3 separate regions of the Homo sapiens genome follow, and all the other regions are linked to region 3. Evidence: fine-mapped expression QTL. A gene starts in region 3. Each other region holds a variant in brackets. All regions are shown on one strand. Distances are between the middles of the regions.

The links. PIP is the estimated chance that this variant, and not a neighbour inherited with it, causes the effect.
Region 1: its variant is fine-mapped to the expression of MPI in whole blood (TOPMed, PIP 0.92).
Region 2: its variant is fine-mapped to the expression of MPI in whole blood (TOPMed, PIP above 0.99).

Annotation. Positions count from the first base shown.
Region 1 is chr15:74,938,723-74,946,901 of GRCh38, forward strand. No RefSeq gene overlaps it. Among named protein-coding and RNA genes, the nearest start is that of COX5A, 4.7 kb to the left of the region's middle. The variant T/C (reference allele first, on the strand shown) is at 3,193.
Region 2 is chr15:74,910,447-74,918,625 of GRCh38, forward strand. No RefSeq gene overlaps it. Among named protein-coding and RNA genes, the nearest start is that of FAM219B, 7.7 kb to the left of the region's middle. The variant C/T (reference allele first, on the strand shown) is at 3,834.
Region 3 is chr15:74,885,520-74,893,698 of GRCh38, forward strand. It overlaps MPI (mannose phosphate isomerase), which reads left to right and starts at 4,523. Exons shown (of 8, transcript NM_002435.3): 1 at 4,523-4,570; 2 at 5,008-5,135; 3 at 5,860-6,060; 4 at 7,142-7,283; 5 at 7,619-7,801. The coding sequence starts at 4,555. RefSeq lists enhancers at 4,140-4,189, 4,350-4,649, 4,439-4,972, 4,770-4,849.

The DNA of each region.
Region 1 (8,179 bases), 53 kb after region 3:
TTGCTTAGCCCCGCCTTCTCATTGTGGCATAAAATAAAACAGCGAATGGGGGAAAGAATGCCGCTGGACGCGGTTGCTCACGCCTGTAATCCTAGCACTTTGGGAGCCCAAGGCGGGCGGATCACCTGAGGTCGGGAGTTCGAGACCAGCCTGACCAACATGGAGAAACCCCTGTCTCTACTAAAAATGCAAAATTAGCCAGGTGTGGTGGCGCATGCCTGTAATCCCAGCTATTTGGGAGGCTGAGGCAGGAGAATTGCTGGAACCCAGGAGGCAGAGGTTGCAGTGAGTTGAGATCGCACCATTGCACTCCAGCCTGGGCAACAAGATCAAAACTCCATCTCAAAAAAAAAAAAGGCCTATGCGTAAGGGATTTTATTAGTACATATTCTTATATCACAAACCAGCTTGCATAAAAAATGAGTTAAACTACTTCATTTCACAGATTAGGAAAGAGGCTCAGAAATTAGGTTGCTGCTGGCAGTCAAGGATCTTTTCGCCACATCCCCAGTTCTGAGGACTCTCACCTGAATGTTTCCCATCTCCTACAGGAGGGCTCCTGAATCCACGATGGCTCTGAAATAGGGTTGATCAAGTTCCACAGTTGTTGCATCTTATCTCACTAGCTACATCCTAACTTTGAGCCCCTGGGCAGTCAAGGACACCTCTCCCAGGCCTGAAGTATCTGGATGCTGCCCAGAGTTAATGAGACATTGTATTCTGTCTTGCTGTCTCCCATTCTCTATCCCTGGGCACACTGAGGAAAGAAAAGGTGGCCATTCATGTGCCACTTCCTCACTTCAGGCCGACTCTCCAGGGCCTCAGCATCTGCCCTTCTCTTTTTCCTCCCTAGCAGTGTGGCTTCAGTGGGTAGGAACCTGGCGGGGAAAAGGATTTTTAAAATGTTTTCAAAGCACCTGCCCTCACCGTTTCCCACCAACCTAGTGCTGGGGCTTAGAAAACAATACCACAAAGTGAAGGCCTATGAAGCAGTTTCTCTCTGACCTTCTGCCCTCTTGTCTCTTGCCCCTTACTCTCCCTCCAGGCATGCCACAGAAACTAGAATCCCTCCTCCCCAAGAGGGGGTCTAGAAAGTAGAACCCCTTTGTCCCAAAGCCAGCCATAAAGCCTAAAAATATTGCTCTAACCTTTCTCTTTGCCTTTCTATGTAACAGCTGGCCATAAAGAAATTAAGGCCGAGCACGGTGGTTCACGCCTGTAATCCTAGCACTTTGAGCCGCCAAGGCCAGGAGATCACTTGAGGTCAGGAGTTTGAGACCAGCCTGGCCAACATGGTGAAACCCCATCTCTATTAAAATTACTAACATTAGCCAGAAATCACTTGAACCCAGGAGGTGGAGGTTGCGGTGAGGCGAGATCACACCACTGCACTCCAGCCTGGGTGACAGAGCTAGACTCCGTCTCAAAAATAAAATTTTTTAAAAAAAAGGAGAAAAGGAAACATGGCCAGGTATGGTGGCTCATGCCTGTAATCCCAGCACTTTGGGAGGCTGAGGTGGGAAGATCACCTGAGGTCGGGAGTTCGAGACCATCCTGGCCAACATGGTGAAACCCCGTCTCTACGAAAAATACAAAAATTAGCTGGGTGTGGTGGCGCACGCTACTCTGGAGCCTGAGGCAGGAGAATCACTTGGGCCCGCGAGGTGGAGGTTGCAGTGAGCCGAGATCGCACAACTGTACTCCAGCCTGGGTGACAGAGTGCGACTCCGTCTCAAAAAAAGAAAAAAAGAAGTTAAGGCTGGGCGCGATGGCTCATGCCTATAATCCCAGCAATTTGGGAGGCTGAGGTGGGGGGATCACCTGAGGTCTGGAGTTTGAGACCAGCTTGACCAACGTGAAGAAACCCCGTCTCTACTGAAAATACAAAATTAGCCGGGCATGGTGGTGCATGCCTGCAATCCCAGCTACTCAGGAAGCTGAAACAGTAGAATTGCTTGAACCTGGGAGGTGGAGGTTGCAGTGGACCGAGATCTTGCCACTGCACTCCAACTTGGGCAACAAGAGTGAAACTCTATCTCCAAAAAAAAGAAAGAAAAGACACTCGTTCCAGTAGTAGGGAGGACAGGGAGGAAGAAATGCTACAAAAGAGAGGCCAGAAGGATTTGAACAGACAGGCTTTGCTGGGTTTTCCCACTCAATCCATTTCCGTTAGCTTGGACCCTTTTTGTCCAATCACAATTCTACATATGCTTTATTGAACCTAAGCATAAAGGACGATTTTCCTTGTATCTATGGGTCTTCAGTCTGAAGCCTCCCATGTCACATAAAACTATGATCAAGTAAACTTGTTATGGTTTTTTCTTTTTAACCTGTCTTTTGTTATGGGAGTGTCAGCCATGACCCTTATGATGGTGAGGAAAAGGATCACCCCTTTCTGCCCCTACACTGGCCAAAGGGCAACGGGGAAACCTTTGACCTCTCTGCAGTTCAATTAGTGTTCATCAAATCTCCAAGGCTGGAAGCTTAAGATGAGGTCAGGGTAAGAAAGTAAGAAAAGTAAGAAAAGCAAGTAAGAAAGCACTGGGCTATATTGCTTGAATCCCAGCTGGTCTCCCTGCTGTCAGAATCCCTCCACTTTGCCTACAGTCACTTAGATTGGCTGCTGAAGTGTTTTTTTTTCTTTTTAAAATACAATTATGACTATAATTTACAATGTGCCACTACATGCCACAAACTATTATCCCATTTATGCCTCATAACAACCTTGTGAGATAAGTTTTTATCCCTATTTTCAAAATTTATTTTATTTTATTATTATTCTTTTTTGAGGTGGAGTCTCGCTCCGTCGCTCAGGCTGGAGTGCAGTGGTGTGATCCTGGCTTACTGCAACCTCCGCCTGCCAGGTTCAAGTGATTCTCCTGCGTCAGCCTCCCGAGTAGCTGGGACTACAGGTGCTCGCCACCATGCCCGTCTAATTTTTGTATTTTTGGTAGAGACGCTGTTTCACCATGTTGGCCAGGCTGGTCTTGAACTCCTGACCTCAGGTGATCCTCTCACCTTGGCCTCCCAAAATGTTGGGATTACAGGCATGAACCACTATGCCCGGCCTAGCCCTGATTTATTGATAAAGGAATAGACTTAAAGGATACTTGCCAAAAATCATACAGCTAACAAATAGTGGTAGTTAGGTTTTAGTCCCCACTTGTCTGACTCCAGAAATTGTTCTTTCCC[T/C]ACCACTGCTGAAGGTAGGTTTTGCTTGTCTTTCAGTCAGTTCTGAATTCTCTGCTACCTTGAGAGCAGTCCACAGCCCTAATTGCCTGCATTCATTTTTTGTTGCTGCCTAACAATTTATCAGGTATAGCATAACTGAATTCTCTACTGGTTATCACAAGACTGAAATCAAGATCACGGCTAGGTTAGACATCTCATCTGGAGCTCAGAGGCCTCTTCTAAGGTCATTCAGGTTGTTGGCAGAATTGATTTCATTGCAGTGGTGGGACAAGGTCCTCATTTCTTCTCGGTAGCTGTCAGCCAAGGACACTCTCAACTCCTAGAGAGTGCCCTGATGTCCTCTCCACTTGGCTCTCTCCATAGGCCCTTCTTACAATCCTGGAGCTTATTTATTCCAAGCAGCAGGAAAGTGTCTCTCTGACACTTTACCTGCTTTTAAAGACTTCATCTCAAGGTGGGCGGATCACTTGAGGTCAGGAGTTCGAGACCAACCTGGCCAACATGGTGAAACCCCATCTCTACTAAAAATACAAAAATTAGCAGGGCGTGGTGGTGGGCACCTGTAATCTCAGCTACTTGGGAGGCTGAGGCAGGAGAATCGCTTGAACCCGGGAGGCAGAGGTTGCAGTGAGCCAAGATCTCACCATTGCACTCCAGCCAGGGGTACAGAAGACTCAGTCAAAAGAAAAAAAAAGACCTCACCTGATTAGGTCAAGCCCACCAGGGTAACTTTTTGATTCACTCAAAGTAGACTGACTAGTAAACTAGTCTTGGGAATGATATCTAAAGAAATTCACAGATTCTGCCCCCTACTCAAGAGGAGGAGATTGTACAAGGGCATGTAAACAGGGGGCATGAATCCTGGGGCTATCTTTGAATTCAGCCTACCATATCACTAAGGCACGGGGGCCCTTGCTTGTTTCCTAGTTGGCCCCCAGATGTGTCCACAGGTTGAAGCCCATCCCATTGCTTCTGGAGGGTACCCCTTCCCTGATGGGCTCAGAGCAGACATCCTGGTTCTTACTCAAGGTCTTCAGGGTCTTTTATCTCTTCCTGCCATTTCCTACCTTGAAATCCTTCGCTGTCCCTCTGGAGAAGCCACACCTGGACTTTTGCTTCTTCTTCTTTTTTTAAAACACAACAGCTGGACTTCTGATGGCTCAGAAATGTCATCGTCACCAGTGGATCAGCCTATCAGCTTTCTGCTACAGCTCAGGGCCTTCATTCTGGAAAAGTTGTGATGAGGCAGTCCCTCTGATGTGTGTGGGGGATGGAATGACATTACTGAGGAGTTTGTGAGGATAAAGACACTGTTCCACCATGTGAATTTCTAGTAACGGTTAAGTTCACGTGCAAGAAAAGCTCTTTTTTTTGTTTTTTCTTCTCTTTTCTTTTTCTTTTCTTTTTTATGTTTTTGAGATAGGGTCATGCTCTGTCACCCAGGCTACAGTGCAGTGACAGAATTATGGCTCACTGCAGCTTTGACCTCCTAGGCTAAAGCAATCTTCCCCCCTCAGCCTCCCAAGTAGCTGGGACTACAGGTACGCACTACCATTCCCGGCTAATTTTTTTAACATTTTTGTTGAGATAGGGTCTTGTTATGTTGCCCAGGCTGGTCTCAAACTCCTAGCTTCAAGCAATCCTCCTGCCTTGGTCCCTCAAATTGCCGGGATTATAGGCATGAGCCACCGCACCAGGCTAGAAAAGCTCTTATTTTCTCTGGTGGGAATTAAGCATGTGCTCAGGAAAAAGAGGGGGAAAAAAATGAAAGAATCCTACCATTTTAAGACTGAAAGTGGGGGCCGGGTGCAGTGGCTCAAGCCTGTAATCCCGGCACTTTGGGAGGCCGAGCCGGGCGGATCACGAGGTCAGGAGATCGAGACCATCCTGGCTAACACAGTGAAACCCCATCTCTACTAAAAATACAAAAAATTAGCCGGGTGTGGTGGCAGGCGCCTGTAGTCCCAGCTACTTGGGAGGCTGAGGCATGAGAATGGCGTGAACCCGGCAGGCGGAGCTTGCAGTGAGCCGAGATAGCGCCACTGCACTCCAGCCTGGGCGACAGAGTGAGACTCTGTCTCAAAAAAAAAAAAGACTGAAAGTGGCCCCCGAGGCCATTAGTCTACTGAGTCTACATGGTTTCCATTTCCTCAGGCCCCTACTTGAGGAGCATCTCCAGTGAACAGGATCTCAATACTAGACTGCTTCGAAAACAGAGCCTAATGAAAAAAGTCACCCAAGAGAATGACACCCTCACCGCTATTAAACTACAGTTCTGCCTTATGCCCTTGGGCAAATTATTCCAATTCCCTGAACCACTGTTTCCTTGTCTAAAAAATGGGAATAGCCGGGTGTGGCAGCTCACGCCTGTAATCCCAGCACTTTGGGAGGCCGAGGCAGGAGGATCACCTGAGGTTGGGAGTTCAAGACCAGCCTAACCAACATGGAGAACCCTGTCTCTACTAAGAATACAAAATCCGCCTCGCGGCTTCAAGCGATTCTCCTACCTCAGTCTCCCAAGTATGCCAGCATGCCTGTAATTCCAGCTACTGGGGAGGCTGAGGCAGGCGAATCGCTTGAATCTGAGAGGTGGAGGTTGTGGTGAGCCAAGATTGCATCATTGCACTCCAGCCTGGGCAACAACAACAACAAAAAATTAGCCAGGCATGGTGGCACGCGCCTTTAGTCCCAGCTACTTGGGAGGCTGAGACAGGAGAATCGCTTGAACCTGGGAGGCAGAGGTTGCAGTGAGCCGAGATCACGCCACTGCACTTCAGCGTAGGCGACAGAGCAAGACTCCATCTCCAAAAAAACAAAAAACAAAACAAATAAAAAATGGGATAATAATGGAACCTACCTAATAGGTTAATAGATTGTTGGGACGATTACCTCAGAAAATGCACATAAAACACTATGTCCTGGCTGGTATACAGTAACAGCTCAATAAATGCTTACTGTTGCTCTCTAAAAGAGCATTTTCTTGTTGTAAAATTGTAGCGGGGCAGGGCAAGTTGTGAGATGGGGATGTTTTAGTCTGTTTTGTGTTGCTATAACAGAATACCTGAGACTCGGTAATTTATTTATTTATTTATTTATTGAGACAGGCTCACCCAGGCTGGAGTGCAGTGGTGAGATCTTGGCTCACTGCAGCCTTGACCTCCTGCGCTCAAGCAATCCTCCCATCTCAGCCTCCTGAGTAGCTAGGACCACAGGCATGTGCCACCTCACCCAGCTAATTTTTGTACAGGTAATTTATAATGACCAGAAATGTATTGGCTTATATTTCTGGAGGCTGAGAAGTCCAATATCAAAGTGCTGGCATCTTGTGAGGGCCTTCTTGCTGCATCATCCCATGGCAGAAGGCATCACATGGTGGAAGGGCAGAGAATGCAAGAGGGGGTGAACCCACTCCCTTGATGAACAAATCATTCTTTTTTTCCCCCCACAGGCTGGAGTGCAATGACTCGACCTCGGTTCACCACAACCCCCACCTCCTGGGTTCAAGTAATTCTCCTGCCTCAGCCTCCCAAGTAGCTGGGATTACAGGCATCTGCCACCATGACCAGCTAATTTTGTATTTGTAGCAGACACGGTGTTTCTCTATGTTGGCCAGGCTCGTCTCAAACTCCTGACCTCAGGTGATCCGCCCACCTTGGCCTCCCAAAGTGCTGGGATTACAGGCATGAGCCACCGCGTCTGGCCAAGAACTCATTCTTGCAATAATGGCACTGGTCCATTCATGAGGGTAGAGCCCTCATGACCTAAAAACCTCTTAAGGGTTCCACCTCCCAACACCAACACAATGACAATTAAATTTCGAGATTAGTTTGATTTTTTGTTTCTTTGTCTTGTTTTTTTTAGAGACAGGGTCTCACTCTGTTGCCCAGGCTGGAGAGTAGTGACATGACCATAGGTCACTGCAGCTTCGAACTCCTGGGCTTAAGTGATCCTCCTGCCTCAGCCTCCTAAGTAGCTGGGACTACAGGTGAACACTACTACACCTGGACAATTTTTTGGACAGGGTCTTGCTATGTTGCCAGGCCGACCTTGGACTTCTGGGCTCAAGCAATCCTCCCACCTCAGTCTCCCAAAGTGCTGGGATTATGGACCACATCCAGCCCAGTTGTTTCTTGTGAGTGGCTTATAAATAGACATCTTTTTTCCCTGTTTTCACATGGTCTTTCGTCTGTGTGAACACGTCTGTATCCTATATCCTAATGCCTTTTTTTTTCTTGAGATGGAGTCTCACTCTGTCGCCCAAGCTGGAGTGCAGTGGCATGATCTCAGCTCACTGCAAGCTCCGCCTCCTGGGTTCACGCCATTCTCCTGCCTCAGCCTCCCAAGTAGCTGGGACTACAGGCGCCTGCCACCATGCCTGGCTAATTTTTTTGTATTTTTAGTAGAGACAGGGTTTCACCGTGTTAGCCAGGATGGTCTCGATCTCCTGACCTCGTGATCCGCCTGCCTCGGCCTCCCAAAGTGCTGGGATTACAGGCGTGAGCCACCGCGCCCTGCCTGCTTTTTATTTTTTAAGAGACTGGGTCTGGCTATTTTGCCCAGGCTGGTGTTGAACTCCTGGACTCAAGTGATCCTCCTGCCTCAGCCTCCCCAGTAGCTGGGACTACAGGTTGCGACACCAACCCAGGCTGTGGCAGTTATTTAACAGTGTTTCTCTCCAGAAACATGTTCAAACCATTACTGAAGGTGAAAAGCAAAAGAAGGGGATTTAATTTTGTGTCTCTCTTACCACTGTAAATGTGGCTACATAACATCTCAGAGAATAAACAATCTTGATGAACCATCAAAATCAGCTGAAGATCTTATTACAATGTGTATTCCCAGGTCCCTCCTGGGAGAATCTGATCCTGTTGGTTTAGAGTTTAGCCCAGGTAATCTGTTTTTTGTTTGTTTGTTTCGTTTTCTTTTTTGGTTTTTTGTTTTTGTTTTGCTTTTGAGATGGAGTTTCCCTCTGTTGCCCAGGCTGGAC
Region 2 (8,179 bases), 25 kb after region 3:
CCAGTTCCCAGTCTTATTTCTTTGTTATTGGGGGGTAGTGAATCCTCGGGGAGAGATTATTGGCTGTTAGGAGCAAGGACTACTACCCTGGCTTTTGGAACCCTCATTGGGCAGTTACTCTTTATCCCTGGCTCTAAATCTAAGTTATTCCCTAAACTTTCTTGGTCCTGGGACAGATACATCTCCATCATCAGTTGAGAATTCTGGTTCTGCTGTTGACTGGAGCTGAATTCCTTCATACAGGCAAGTATCTGGGGTTAAACATTAAAAGGGATGGAGGACAGAGATTTTTTTTTTTTATCCTGCTACTTCCCTTTCAAGCTCTCTTCCATCTCAGAAGCCACTGTCTCACCAGGTTGTGGCCTCTAGCCCAAGGAACTTCTCTCATTATTGGTAGAGTACAGATAACTAGATAGGACCTATGAATCTGCAGGTCTTTCTGGGTTCCCAGGTTACCAGACCCACCATTGTCCTCACAGTTATATGCAAAGGTATGGCCACAGCTGTGGCGGGCTGCTGTGGCTTGTCTCCACCAAACCCCATGTTTAAATTTGATCCCCAGTGTTGGAGGTGGGGCCTAATAGGAGGTATCTGGGTCATGGGGGTGGATCCCTCACGAATACATTAATGCTCTCTCTGAAGGTGGTAAGTTCTTATTCTATAAGTTCCTGAGAGAGCTGGGTTTTTAAAAAAATATCAATTATATATATATAGTGGGCCATAAAAACTATCTCTGCGGCCAGGCGCAGTGGCTCACGCCTGTAATCCCAGCACTTTGGGAGGCCAAGGCAGGCGGATCACAAGGTCAGGAGTTTGAGACCAGCCTGACCAACGTGGTGAAACCCCATCTCTACTAAAAATACAAAATTAGCCGGACGTGGTGGGGTGCGCCTGTAATTCCAGCTACTCAGGAGGCTGAGGCAGGAGAATGGCTTGAACCCAGGAGGCGGAGGTTGCAGGGAGCCGAGATCGTGCCACTGCACTCCAGCCTGGGCAACAGAGTGAGACTCCGTCTCAAAACAAACAAACAAACAAACAAACAAACAAAAACTATCTCTGCTTTCTTGAAGTGTGGATTTAGCCAAGGAGCCAAAAAACAAAAAAACATAGCAGTGGAAATTTACTAGTTATAGGGATAGTCTTAGATATATATTTATGTGTGAATATATATTATCTGTATAGATAACTAGGTATTAATGTCACATAAGATGGTGTGACCACACACACACACAAACACACGTGCAGAGAGAGGGAATTCAGCCACGTGGTGTAGGTTGGTTAATTACTTGAGATAAATGAGAAGCAGGCAGGTCTGTGCTGAGCTGTGTCATCAGTGAAGATCACACTTGGAGGTGACATTGAAGCTGATTCCTCAAAGAACCACGAAGGAGGCACGTGGAGACCCAGACAGGGAACATCAGAGGCTCCAGAAAGAGCAGGTCCCAGAAAAGTCTCAGCCTGTTCTTCAGAAAGGAATGACCACTTTGTCTGTGGGGTATAGTGGGAGGCAGAGGAGGAGATGGAGCTGAGATTCAGGGCCTTGGTGGATTCAGAATAGGTCAGGATAAACTGGCCAGGAAAAGGTGGCCCCACCATCTCAAGAGAGTTAGATATTAAAGAGCCTGGTATCTCCCCTTCCTCTTGCTTCCTCGCTCACCAAGTGATTTCTGCTCAAGCCTGCTCCCCTCTGCCTTCCGCCATGAGTGGAAGCAGCCTGAGGCCCTCACCAGAAGCTAAGTAGATGCCAGTTCCATGCTTCTTGTACAACCAAAACAACCGTGAGCTAATAAACGTTTTTTTTTTTTAGACCAAGTTTCACTATTATTGCCCAGGCTGGAGTGCAGTGGCATGATCTCGGCTCACCCCAACCTCCACTTCCCCAGTTCAGGCGATTCTCCTGGCTCAGCCTCCTGAGTAGCTGGGATTACAGGCATGTGCCACCACGCCTGTAATTTTGTATTTCTAGTAGAAATGGGGTTTCTCCATGTTGGTCAGGCTGGTCTTGAACTCCTGACCTCAGGTGATCCGCCCGCCTCAGCCTCCCAAAGTGTTGGGATTACAGGCGTGAGCCACTGTGCCCGGCCTAATAAACATTTTTTGTTAAGAGATGGGGTCTTGCCTTGTTGCCCAAGCTGGAGTACAGTGCTGTGATCATAGCTCACTGTATCCTTGAACTCCTGGGCCCAAGCAATCAGTCCATCTCACCTTTCTGAGTAGCTGGGACTATAGGTACATACCACTGTACCTGGCTAGTTTTTAAAATTTTTTTGGTAGAGATGGGGGTCTCACTATGTGGCCCAGGCTGGTCTCGAACTCCTGGCCTCAAGTAATCCTCCTGCCTTGGCCTCCCAAGGCACTGGGATTACAGGCATGAGCCCCTTTACTTTAAAAATTACCCAGCCCCAGGCCGGGCGCAGTGGCTCACGCCTGTAATCCCAGCACTTTGGGAGGCCGAGGCGGGTGGATCACAAGGTCAAGAGATCAAGACCAACCTGGCCAACATGGTGAAACCCCGTCTCTATTAAAAGTATAAAAATTAGCTGAGCGTGGGGGCGGGCACCTGTAGTCCCAGCTACTCGGGAGGCTGAGGCAGGAGAATCGCTTGAACTCGGGAGGCAGAGGTTGCAGTGAGCAGAGATCACGCCATCGCACTCCAGCCTGGGCGACAGAGCGAGATGCCGTCTCAAACAAAACAAACAAAAAAAAGTTACCCAGCCTCAGGTATCCCTTTACAGCAACACACTAAACCCGTTTAAGACAAAGGCCAAGCCCAGCACAGAGTCATCTCACTTGGCGTTCAACCAAACTTCTCCAATGCAGCAAAATGGCAAACTAAACAATGTTACTGCAAAATGTGACTATAGACTAATAGGCTCTGCTGCTAAGGACAAGCTCTCTGGCATCCAGTTAAACAAACAGCCAGGAAAAACTGAAGTGATAGTTAGCAAAACTTAGGAGAGAATGACTAGGCTTAAGCCATTTTCCCAAGCACAACCAAAAAAATGATTATAACAAATAGAACATAATCTGCTAACCTTTCATTCTTGTTATATCCTTGTGAGGTGGCTCCCATTTTCAGATAAGGAAACAAAAGGACAGAAGTGTAGGCAACATATACACAGTCATATGACTGTTATACAGTAGACTGGGATTTATACCCAAGTCTGAATCCAAACCCCATTTTCTCATCTTACTGCTACATTATGCTGCCTTCCATCAGCTGGTAGGTGTATGTAATAAAAAGACATGAGGACAAACTGACATCATGTCCCTCCTGAGGGGATACAATTGGAATTTCACATAGTATTTTTGCCAAAAATGTTTAGCTGGATTTGAATAATTAGGAAACAGACACAGGCAGATTACAGGACATTCTACAACTGGCCTGGACTCTTCAGAAATATGAACTGTATGTATTTGATGCTAAACTTATTATTTTTTTTTTTTTATTTTGAGACGGAGTTTCACTCTTGTTGCCCAGGCTGGAGTGCAATGGCCAATCTTGGCTCACTGCAACCTCCATCTTCCAGGTTCAAGCGATTCTCCTGCCTCAGCCTCCTGAATAGCTGGGATTACAGGCATGAGCCACTACGCCCAGCTAATTTCTGTAGTTTTAATAGAGACAGGGTGTCTCAGTGTTGGTCAGCCTGGTCTCGAACTTCTGACCTCAGGTGATCCACCCGCCTCGGCCTCCCAAAGTGCCAGGGTTATAGGCGTGACCCACTGCGCCTAGCCTGATGCTAAACTTCTTGAAATAGAACAGAATTGTGTTTATGTAGGAGGCAAAAGTCCTTTTTCTCAGATTTTTGCTGAAGTATTCAGGGGTGAAGTGA[C/T]GTGTGTAGATATATAACATATAAACAAATGTGACAAACTATTAATTGCTTTGAAATTTATTTTCTTTTTTTTTTTTTTTTTTGAGACGGAGTCTGGCTCTGTCGCCCAGGCTGGAGTGCAGTGGTGCCATCTTGGCTCACTGCAAGCTCCGCCTCCCGGGTTCATGCCATTCTCCTGCCTCAGCCTCCCGAGTAGCTGGGACTACCGGTGCCCGCCACCTCGCCTGGCTAATTTTTTGTATTTTTAGTAGAGATGGGGTTTCACCGTGTTAGCCAGGATGGTCTTGATCTCCTGACTTCGTGATCCACCCACCTCGGCTTCCCAAAGTGCTGGGATTACAGGCGTGAGCCACCGCACCCGGCCTGCTTTGAAACTTAATTAAAACAAACTGTAGGAAAGAAAAAGGCTAGAGACCCCATCCTGTTAGGGTAGAAGCCCTGTCCATCCAAGTCAAGCTGTGGAAGGATCCTCATATTTACCATCTACTTCTTTTGTTTGTTTGAGACAGAGTCTTGATCTGTCGCCAGGCTGGAATGCAGTGGCACGATCTCGGCTCTCTGCAACCTACGCCTCCCAGGTTCAAACAGTTCTCCTGCCTCAGCCTCCTGAGTGGCTGGGACTACAGACGTGCACCACCATGCCCAGCTAATTTTTGTAGAGACGGGGTTTCACCATGTTGGGAAGGCTGGTCTTGAACTCCTAACCTCATGATCCGTCCGCTTCAGCCTCCCAAAGTGCTGGGATTAGAGGCGTGAGCCACTGCACCCAACCCATCTACTTCTTTAGGTAGAGCTAGGATCCATCAAGCTAAAAGATGTACCTACTTTTTTTTTTTTTTGAGATGGAGTTTCATTCTTGTTACCCAGGCTGGAGTGCAATGGCATGATCTCGGCTCACCGCAACCTCCGCCTCCCAGGTTCAAGCGATTCTTCTGCCTTAGCCTCCTGCTGGGATTACAGGCGCTCGCCACCATGCCCAGTAAATTTTTTGTATTTTTAGTAGAGATAGCGTTTCACTGTGTTGGCCAGCTGGTCTCAAACTTCTGACCTCAGGTGATCCACTCACCTCAGCCTCCCCAAGTGCTGGGATTACAGGCGTGAGCCACCGCGCCTGGCCAAGATGTACCTACTTTTTCCAGCACAACAAAGAAGTTGATTCAATTTGCCTAATGGGTGTGTGTGTGAAGAAAGTTTGATGAGACAAATTCACCAGTAGATTGAATTTATCTAGTCACTTTTGCCTTCTAGTAACATGCCTTGTGATTTTTGTAAGTTTGCTTCTTGTGAAAATTATTTCTATTATTTTAGAGTAAAGGTGGGCAAACTTTCTGTAAACAGGCAAATAGTACTCTCTGGTCCAACTACTCACTATGTCATTTTAATGCAAAAGCAGCTATAGATAATGCACAGTGTGAATGTACCTAATGCCACTGTACTGTAAACTCAAAAATGGTCAAGATGAGGCCAGGTGCAGTGGCTCATGCCTGTAATCCCAGCACTTCGGGAGGCCCAGGTGGGCGGATCACGAGGTCAGGAGATTGAGACCATCCTGGCTAACACGGTGAAACCCCGTCTCTACTAATATAAAAAATTAGCCGGGCGTGGTGGCTGATGCCTGTGGTCCCAGCTACTCGGGAGGCTGAGGCAGGAGAATGGCGTGAACCTGGGAGGCAGAGGTTGCAGTAAACCGAGATGGCGCCACTGCACTCCAGCCTGGGCGACAGAGCGAGACTCCATCTCAAAAAAAAAAAAAAAAAAAAAAAAGGTCAAGATGGTAAATTTTATGTATGATCTTACCATAATTTACTAAAAGGCAAAAAAATAAGCCACAGATAATATGTAAATGAATGAGGGCGTGTGACTGTGTTCCAATAAAACCTTATTTATGGACACCATATTTGAATTTATTATTTTTTGAGACAGAGTCTTGCTCTGTCGCCCAGGCTGGAGTGCAGTGGCATGATCTCGGCTCACTGCAACCTCCGCCTCCCAGGTTCATGCCATTCTCCTGCCTCAGCCTCCGGAGTAGTGGGGACCACAGGTGCCCGCCACCACGCCCGGCTAATTTTTTGTATTTTTAGTAGAGACGGGGTTTCACCATGTTAGCCAGGATGGTCTTGATCTCCTACCTTGTGATCCACCCACCTTGGCCTCCCAAAGTGCTGGGATTACAGGTGTGAGCCACCATGCCCGGCCCATATTCTGAATTTCATACAGTTTTTATATATTATGAAAAATTTTTTTTTTTTTGAGTCAGAGTCTCGCTCTGTCGCCCAGCCTGGAGTACAGCAGCATGATCTCGGCTCACTGCAACCTCCACATCTTGGGTTCAAACGATTCTTCTGCCTCAGCTTCCCGTGTAGCTGGGACTATAGGTGCGTGCCACCATGCCCAGCTAATTTTTATATTTTTAGTAGAGACATGGTTTCACCATATTGGCCAGGCTGGTCTCGAACTCCTGACCTTGTAATCCACCCGCCTCAGCCTCCCAAAGTGCTGGGATTACAGGTGTGAGCCACCGCGCCTGGCCGAAATATTTTTCATTGATTTTTCAACCATTTAAAAACATACCAGGCCGGGCACGGTGGCTCACGCCTATAATCCCAGCACTTTGGGAGGCCGAGGCAGGTGGATCGTTTGAGTCCAGGAGTTTGAGACCATCCTGGCTAACACGGTGAAACCCCGTCTCTACTAAAAATACAAAAAATAAGCCAGGCGTGGTGGCGGGCACCTGTAGTCCCAGCTACTCGGGAGGCTGAGGCAGGAGAATGGCATGAACCTGGGAGGCAGAGCTTGCAGTGAGCCGAGATCATGCCACTGTACTCTAGCCTGGGCGACAGAGCAAAACTCTGTCTCAAAAGAAAAACAAAACACAAAAAACCCATACCAGCCTGGGCAACGTGGTCTACAAAAAAATACAAAAATTAGCTGGGTGTGGTAGCATGCATCTGTAGTACCAGCTCCTCAGAGGCTGAGATAGGAGGATTGCTTGAGCCCAGGAGGCAGAGGTTGCAGTGAGCTGATACCACACCACTGTACTCCAGCCTGGGTGACAGAGCAAGACCCTGTCTCGAAAAAAAAAAAAAAAAGTAAAAATTCCTAGAGCACCCCAGGTGCAGTAGCTCATGCTTGTAATCCCAGCACTTTGGAGGGTGAGGTGGGCGGATCACTTCAGGCTAGGAGTTCAAGACCAGTCCAGCCAACATGGTGAAACCCCATCTCTGCTAAAGCTACAATAAATTAGCCAGGCGTGGTGGCACATGCCTGTGATCCCAGCTACTCAGGAGGCTAAGGAAGGAGAATCGCTTGAACCTGGGAGGCAGAGGTTGCAGTGAGCCGAGATTGTGCCACTGGACTCCAGCCTGGGCAACAGAGCAAGACTCCGTCTTAGAAAAACAAACAAACAAACAAAAAACTTACCAGAGTACCCGTTTCCTTCTAAGGGTATACATGAGTGAATCAGATAAAATAAAATGTTGAAATCTCAACCTTACCTAAGATACAAAGGAGGCCAGCTGTGGTGGCTCACGCCTGTAATCCTAGCACTCTGGGAAGCCAAGACAGGCAGAGAGCTTGAACTCAGGAATTTGACACCAGCCTGGGCAACATGAGACCAAAACCACAAAAATTAGCCATGTGTGGAGGTGCACGCCTGTGGTCCCAGCTACTCTGGAGGCTGAGACGGAAGGATTGTTGGAGCCCGGGAAGTCGAGGCTACAGTGAGCCATGATCACATCACTGCACTCCAGCCTGTGTCAGAGCAAGACAGTCTCAAAACAAAACAAAAACACATTAAAAAAAAAAAAAAAAGCAAAGGCAACAAGAATCACTTTCCATCTACTAGTTCTATCCAGCTACAAATAAATCTTCTGCTTGTAAAAGAAAAGCCAATGCCTCAACCCTCACCATCTTTCAAATCACTCTCATTGCCTAAGATCACTCCTTCGCCTCCTGCAGTTTGGCCTCAACCGCCCACAAAAACATGGCCAAGAAATTAAAATTTCTTGAGCATCTGGCTGGGCGCGGTGGCTCACGCCTGTAATCCCAACACTTTGGGAGGCTGAGGCAGGCAGATCACCTGAGAGGTCAGGAGTTCGAGACCAGCCTGGCCAACATGGTGAAACCCCATCTCTACTAAAATTACAAAAATTAGCAGGGCATGGTGGTGCATGCCTGTAATCCCAGCTACTTGGGAGACTGAGGCACAAGAATTGCTTGAACCCGGGAGGGGGAGGTTGTAGTGAGCCGAAATTGGGCCATTGCACTCCAACCTGGGCAACAGAGTGAGACTCTGTCTTAAAAAAAAAAAAAATTTTGCTGAGCATCTGTATATGCTTACTTGCTTC
Region 3 (8,179 bases):
GCTCAAGCAATCCTCCCACCTCAGCCTCCAGAGTAGCTGGGACTACCGGCATGTGCTACCACCCTCAGCTAATTTTTAAAGTATGTTTAGAGACAGGGTCTTGCTATGTTGCCCAGGCTGGTCTTGAATTCCTGGACACAAGTTATCCTCCGCCTTGGCCTCCCAACGTGTTGGAATTACACGTGTGAGCCACTGCACCTGGCCAAGATATTATTTTCATTTTTTTTTAAATAGTAATGAGATCTTGCTATGTTGGCCAGGTTGGTCTTGAACTCCTGGCCTCAAGCCATCCTTCTACCTCTGCCTCCTAAACTGCTAGGATTACAGGCCTGAGCCACTGCACTCTGTCTTTAGTTGTTGTTTGTTTTTTTGTTTTTTTTTTTATTTTGAGACGGAGCCTTGCTCTGTCGCCCAGGCTGGGGTGCAGTGGCACGATCTCCACTCACTGCCATTCTCCTGCCTCAGCCTCCCGAGTAGCTGGGACTACAGGCGCCTGCCACCACGCCCGGCTAATTTTTTGTATTTTTAGTAGAGACGGGGTTTCATCGTGTTAACCAGGATGGTCTCGATCTCCTGAACTCTATCTCATGATCTGCCCGCCTTGGCCTCCCAAAGTGCTGGGATTACAGGCATGAGCCACCACGCCCAGCCCCTATCTTTAGTTTTTATAGAGAACTAAACATCTTGTGACTCTGGCTTACTTGGGTGGCTGCTTAAGTTACTATTACCTTCTTCCTTGGTGGGTTATTCATTTACTTCCCTAATTGCTGGGTGCAGGGCTAGCTAGTTCCTGAAATCTCCCTTGAAGGGACTCAAAATTTTCCCTTTATCTCCATACTTGCGGGCCAGAGGGGCACCTAAGAAGGGTCTGTCCTCCATATCAATGTCTCTCTGGGCCTGATAATATAAAAGGATGCACATTCCTCAGATAAAATCTCTTTTCTCAAGATAGACCAGCAAGAGGGAAGAAGTAGAAGGTTCTAGGTTCTCCAAACACCCTAGTTTCTCTTACAGATAAGTTTTTCTGTATTGGGGGAGGGTGGCATGGGGTTGGGGGGTGGTCTGTATCTCCCAACAATCTAAGTTCTTCCTTCACTTTGCAGGGATACTATGAGCAAATAACCCTGACTCTGTTTTCTGTGGTAGTGGTAGTGGGGAGTGCTCCAAGAACTCCTTGAGCCTCATTAGTCCCTCGTTCTTATCTGAGAAGGTTCCTATTGCTTGGTGTATTAGTCCGTTTTCATGCTGCTATAAAGATACTACCTGAATTGGGTAATTTATAAAGAAAGGAGGTTTGGGCCAGGCATGGTGGCTCATGCCTGTAACCCAGCACTTTGGGAGGCTGAGGTGGGTGGATCACCTGCAGTCAGGATTTTGAGACCAGCCTGGCCAACATGGTGAAACCCCGTCTCTACTAAAAATACAAAAATTAGCCGGGCATGGTGGCACGTGCCTGTAGTCCCAGCTATTTGGGAGGCTGAGACAGGAGAATCGCTTGAACCCGGGAGGCGGAGGTTGCAGTGAGCCAAGATCGTGCCACTGCACTCTACTCTGGGTGACAGAGTGAGACTCCATCTCAAAAAAAAAAAAAAAAGGAGGTTTGGCCTGACGCGGTGGCTCATGCCTGTAATCTCAGCACTTTGGGAAGTCAAGGCAGGTGGATCACCTGAGGTCAGGAGTTCGAGACCAGCCTGGGCAAAATGGTGAAACCTCGCCTCTACTAAAAATACAAAAATTAGCCGGGCATGGTGGTGTGCACCCAGCTACTTGGGTGGCTGAGGCAGGAGAATCACTTGAACCTGGGAAACAGAGCTTGCAGTGAGCTGAGATCATGCCACTGCACTCCAGCCTGGGCAACGGAGCAAGACTCAATACTCAAAAAGAAAAAATAAAAAAAAAGAAAGGAGGTTTAATTGACTCACAGTTCTACATGGCTGGGGAGGCCTCAGGAGCTTATAATCATGACAGAAGGCAAAGGGGAAGCGAGGCACATCTTAGATGGCAGTAGGAGAGAGAGCGAGAAAGTGCCACACTTTAAAACCATCAGCTCTTGGGAGAACTCACTCACTATCATGAGAACAGCATGGGGGAAACCACCCCCATGATCCAATCACCTCCCACCAGGTCCCTCCCTCAACATGTGGGGATTACAATTCAAGATGAGATTTGGGTGGGGACACAGAGCCAAATCATATCACTTGGGTAGTGGAGATGAGGGAAAGGAGTGGTATTCCAAAGCACGAGGTATTGAGTACGTTGTTTCATGAGTCTTTTTTTTTTTTATTTATTTTTTATTTTTTTATTGATCATTCTTGGGTGTTTCTCGCAGAGGGGGATTTGGCAGGGTCACAGGACAACAGTGGAGGGAAGGTCAGCAGATAAACAAGTGAACAAAGGTCTCTGGTCTTCCTAGGCAGAGGACCCTGCGGCCTTCCGCAGTGTTTGTGTCCCTGGGTACTTGAGATTAGGGAGTGGTGATGACTCTTAACGAGCATGCTGCCTTCAAGCGTCTGTTTAACAAAGCACATCTTGCACCGCCCTTAATCCATTAACCCTGAGTGGACACAGCACATGTTTCAGAGAGCACAGGGTTGGGGGTAAGGTCACCGATCAACAGGATCCCAAGGCAGAAGAATTTTTCTTAGTACAGAACAAAATGAAAAGTCTCCCATGTCTACCTCTTTCTACACAGACACGGCAACCATCCGATTTCTCAATCTTTCCCCCACCTTTCCCCCCTTTCTATTCCACAGAACTGCCATTGTCATCATGGCCCGTTCTCAATGAGCTGTTGGGTACACCTCCCAGACGGGGTGGTGGCCGGGCAGAGGGGCTCCTCACTTCCCAGTAGGGGCGGCCGGGCAGAGGCGCCCCTCACCTCCCGGACGGGGTGGCTGGCCGGGCGGGGGGCTGACCCCCCTACCTCCCTCCCGGACGGGGCAGCTGGCTGGGCAGAGGGGCTCCTCACTTCCCAGTAGGGGCGGCCGGGCAGAGGCGCCCCTCACCTCCCGGACGGGGCGGCTGGCCGGGCTGGGGGCTGACCCCCCCACCTCCCTCCCGGACGGGGCGGCTGGCCAGGCGGGGGGCTGTCATGAGTCTTGTATTATCCATTTTATTATTCCTTAGTGCATGGTAAAGCTTCCTTTAAAATGCAAGCTGATTTATTTGAGCCAGAGGACCCCAGGGGAGGTGAGATAGATACCCACACCTGGGCAGAGGATTACAGGGAAAACGGCACCCGCTCTTTCCCCTGGGCACATATGGTAGAGGCTGTGGGAATGAGGGTATTGCAGGGGTGATGAGGGTAGAGTCAGGACTGTAACTCCTCATTCCAGGTTCCCCGGAGCTTTGACTGTTGTGCTCCTAGCCTCAAGCAATCCTTCTGCCTCTGCCTCCTAAGGTGCTAGGATTACAGGCCTGAGCCACTGACTGTCCTCCTCCTAGGAGGCTGTTGACTGAGAAGGTCTGGATGTCAAAGCCTTTCACCACAGGATATAGCCAAGATTACTGCAGAGCCAAGGCCCAAGGCCATCCTTCCCTATGCACAGCTCTTCGTAATTCCCCTGACTTCTGTGTGTGCAACTTGTAAGCAGCTCAGCCTGGAGTAGAAGTTGGGGTTCTGACTTTCTACAGCACCTGGGACGGGAAGGATCAGAGGAGCACAGGGAGCTGACTGCCTTATAGGTGTCTCACGTCATCCCATCTGACCCTCCAACAAGCATGTCAGGCTGGCATTATTCACCCCATTCTACAAAGCTCAGAGCAGTGAAGGGCCTTGCATGTGACATTTACCATCATCATCACTAGTATGTCCCTACTCACATCACAGCAATTCTTTGCTCAAATCTGTAATTGCTGAGACTCGAAGTAAAACCCAAAGTCTTCACAATAGCAATAGCCTGCAAAGCTCTGCCCCCCTCCTCTCTTCTCTGACCTCCTCACTGCCCCTGTCTTACTCACTCTGCTCCAGCCACAGTGGCCTCCTTGCTAGCAGTTCCCTCCCCAACACGCCCGGCACAGTCCCACATTCCCGCCTTGCTCTGGCTTCCGCTGTGGCTGTTTCCTCCCCGCAGAACACTCCTGCCTTCCTCACCGCCAAGTCTGGACTCAAACCTCACCTCCTCAAGAGGCTTGCCCAGACAGCCTTTTATATTCTGCAAACTGCCTCCCACTGCCACCTGCCCCCTTACTTTTTGTGGCCTTGACCTTTCAACATACTACATGATTTGCTTACAATACTTGTCTGTCTTGCCTTCACCAGAATGTAAGCGCTCTACAAAGGCAGAGGGAAGGCTATCTTGCTCTCTGATGTATCCTCCAGCCCTTAGAACAGTCCGTGGTACTTAGCAGGTTTTCAGTACATCTGTGCCCGGCGATGGAAAGAATGAATGAATAGTGAGACCGAAGATCGCGGCCGTAAGCCTCTGGGCACGGGTGCCCCGGGGCCTGGCGGAACGCTCAGGGAACTACATTTCCCGTGAAGCTCTGGGCGCAGAGGGCCGCGGGGGCTGCCGGGAAAGGCATACGTGCTTAATCCTGGTGCAGGGGGCGAGCATGGCCGCTCCGCGAGGTGAGCCATTGGCTGGGGTGTCGGCGAGTGTGTTCGTGGAGCGCGTCCTGGGGACGACTCCCGGCATTATCGGCCAGGTTGAGTCCGCTCCTGGCATTCCGCGGAAAGATGGGTGGGTGCCGGGCAGAGGTGTGGCCACCTGCGATGGGGATTGACCTCCGAGGGGAGGGGGCCCTTCTAGACGTCGTGCCGTGGGATAGGTACCTTCTGCTCCCTCCCCGCCACCCTGCCTCAGATCAGCACAAGGTCCTTACTGCTGCCCATCTGACAGTTGGGAACATCGAGGCCTGCAGCGGAGGGGGGTCTCATCCAACAGCCTACAAAACCCTTATTTGACTCTGTCCCCAGTGAGCACCCCCAGCTCTTGCCTGGTTTCCCGGGACACTAGGGTGGGGCCTGAGGAGTGGAGTGGCAGCTGACCCTGTCTGTGCCCCTAGTATTCCCACTTTCCTGTGCGGTGCAGCAGTATGCCTGGGGGAAGATGGGTTCCAACAGCGAAGTGGCGCGGCTGTTGGCCAGCAGTGATCCACTGGCCCAGATCGCAGAGGACAAGCCTTATGCAGAGGTGAGCCCCGGGCTGTATTTCAGCCCACTTTACCCGCAGGTCAGGAGAAAGGGCCTGAGGCAAGTCATAAGAATCAGCTGGGAAGGGTGAGGCAGCAAGGAGGGAGGAGACCCACTTGGCTCTTCAGGCTAATGGACTAGATAGTGTTATCAAAAAGAAGAGAGGTTTTGTCATAATAGGCTGGGATTTCCAGCACTCTCCTTCCCCCAACCACTCTTAGCACTTAGTGAATTTTAATTCAGCCCTCTTTGACAATTAAGTTTTTTTACTTTGACTATTTTTTTGCATTTTTATTAACCTAAAATATTTCTCCTGCCTATTTAGTGGAGAAAAAGCCAAAGCATAGGAAGGCTTTCGCCTCTGCTTCTGAAACTGGAAGATGTATGTTAACCCCTGAAAGAATCATTTAAGAGTCATAGTTTTTCTGCTACCTTGACAGTGCAGATGTCATTCTCCTCTTTGGACAGACAAAGAAGATACATCTAAAGAAGGGAAATAACTAGTCCAAGTCTTCATAGATGGCTAGAGGCCGAGTCTGGACAAGGGCCTGGGTCTACTGCCTCCCTGTATGTCCATGATGGCATGAACATTTGTATCCAGACCTGGGAGGCCTTTCCCAGGACTCAGTTGCCCTGTGGGGAGCACAGCATAACGGATTGGGACAGGCCAACTCAGGGTGGCAGGTTTCTTCCCCCTTCCCCTCCCAAGTTTCCTGTCTTTCCAGTTGTGGATGGGGACTCACCCCCGAGGGGATGCCAAGATCCTTGACAACCGCATCTCACAGAAGACCCTAAGCCAGTGGATTGCTGAGAACCAGGACAGCTTGGGCTCAAAGGTCAAGGACACCTTTAATGGCAACCTGCCCTTCCTCTTCAAAGTGCTCTCAGTTGAAACACCCCTGTCCATCCAGGCACACCCTAACAAGGTAAAGGACAGAGTGCGGTGCAGAGGTCAGGGTACAGAAGGGCTTATGCTAAGGCCCTCCCGTGACTTTTACTGCCACTTTTACCCCACCCATGCCAGGCTCCTGCCCAAGGCCAAATCCAGGCTGACAACTCCCAATTTAGCTCTGCAAAGCCAGATGGTAGTGACACATGCAGCAACTAAGTCTAAGCAAACAGCTCACCGGCCTGTGCCAGGGGAGTTTCTCTAAGCTCATTCCAAGGGGCTTGTTCCTGGTCTTCCCTCATCCAACCCATGTCTATTCATATCTGCCATTTACTCATCTGCTTTCAGGAAGAGTTCAACTTGCAAGGCAGGGCAGGTACCCTCAGCCCCACCCCCATGGAGTCTCCCTACACAAGCCGGAGTCCCATCCTAAGCAACTGTGGATCAAAACTCCTTTTTTTTTTTTTCTGAGACTTGAGTCTTGCTCTGTCGCCCAGGCTGGAGTGCAGTGGCGCGATCTCGGCTCACTGCAACCTCCTCCTCCCAATTCAAGCAATTCTTCTGCTTCAGCCTCGCAAATAGCTGGGACTACAGGCACGCGCCACCACACCCAGCTAATTTTTGTATTTTTAGTAGAGATGGGGTTTCACCATGTTGGCCAGGCTGGTCTTGAACTCCTGCCCTCGTAATCCGCTCGCCTCAGCCTCCCAAAGTGCTGGGATTACAGGCGTGAGCCACCATGCCCAGCCAAAACTCCTTATTTCTAGATACACAAAGTAAGACCCAGAGAAGGGAGGGATTTACCAAAGCCACACAGCTTGTTAGTGTCAGAGCTTGGTCTGGTATTTGGGTTTCCTGATTCACAGGCCAAGCCTCTTAAAGTCTGCCCCAGCTTTTCCCTGATTTGCCCCGGGGTTGCCCCTGATTTGCCCCTGCCCTGGGTTGGCTGAGCCCCAAGTTTCTGCAACATGCTTTGACTGGGCTCCTTGCCAGAGGTAGGTAGTCACTGCCATCCTGCAACTGGGGAGGGTGGACAGCAGGGGCTAGGTGGCACTGGTGTACCTGCTAGGTAATGGCTGTACCCTCACCATCCTCCTCTTCCCCTGGCCACCCCACAGGAGCTGGCAGAGAAGCTGCACCTCCAGGCTCCGCAGCACTACCCCGATGCCAACCACAAGCCAGAGATGGCCATTGCCCTCACCCCCTTCCAGGGCTTGTGTGGCTTCCGGCCAGTTGAGGAGATTGTAACCTTTCTAAAGAGTAAGTTGGGCAGAATGCTGAAGGCATGCGTACTGGGCCAGGGATACCTGGGGAACCAAGATGATAGGAACAGTGGCTGAGAACGGGTCACATGTCACAGGAACTGAAGGGCCTCATGAAGCAGTTTTTGGAGCCAGTGAGCCAGGCCAGTGAGACCAGGCTCAGGTGTGGTAGTCAAGGGCTGGTGGTGAGTGATTGGTTTCCACTGCAAAGTTTACTTAGCATTGCCGGCTCTTTGGTTAGGGCTGGGATGGAAAGGTGTCCTCCAACTCCCCACTTGTGTGGGTTCCATCTTACCATTCCTGATATGGGCCCTGGGCCTTGCCTTCCTGTAGAGGTGCCTGAGTTTCAGTTCCTGATTGGAGATGAGGCAGCAACACACCTGAAGCAGACCATGAGCCATGACTCCCAGGCTGTGGCCTCCTCTCTGCAGAGCTGTTTCTCCCACCTGATGAAGAGTGAGAAGAAGGTGGTGGTGGAACAGCTCAACCTGTTGGTGAAGCGGATCTCCCAGCAAGGTGGACACAGTTATATTCCTGGTTGGGTGCAATGCTCTGGCCTGGGCTTCCCAGCAGACACCAGACTCTGGGGACAGTTCTCAACCCCCTTGCCCAAGTGGAACACTAAAAGGGGCCCCACTTAGATGACCTGTTGGCAACTTAGCATTGCTTGCCTAGTCTTTGTGGAGCAGGGCCCTTCTTAGTTGAGTGCTGCTTCCCAACTGGTCATCTTCTCCAGATGGTTGGAGGCAGACTGGCATAGAGGACTCTTAGGATGCCTTCCACCTAGGCATTCTGAGATTTTCCCTAGCCCTGCAGCTGCCCTCCATGGATGGACTTGTATCTCGGGGCTAAAGAGGCAGGAAGGGGACACGAGCATCCTCCCTCTCCTGGAAA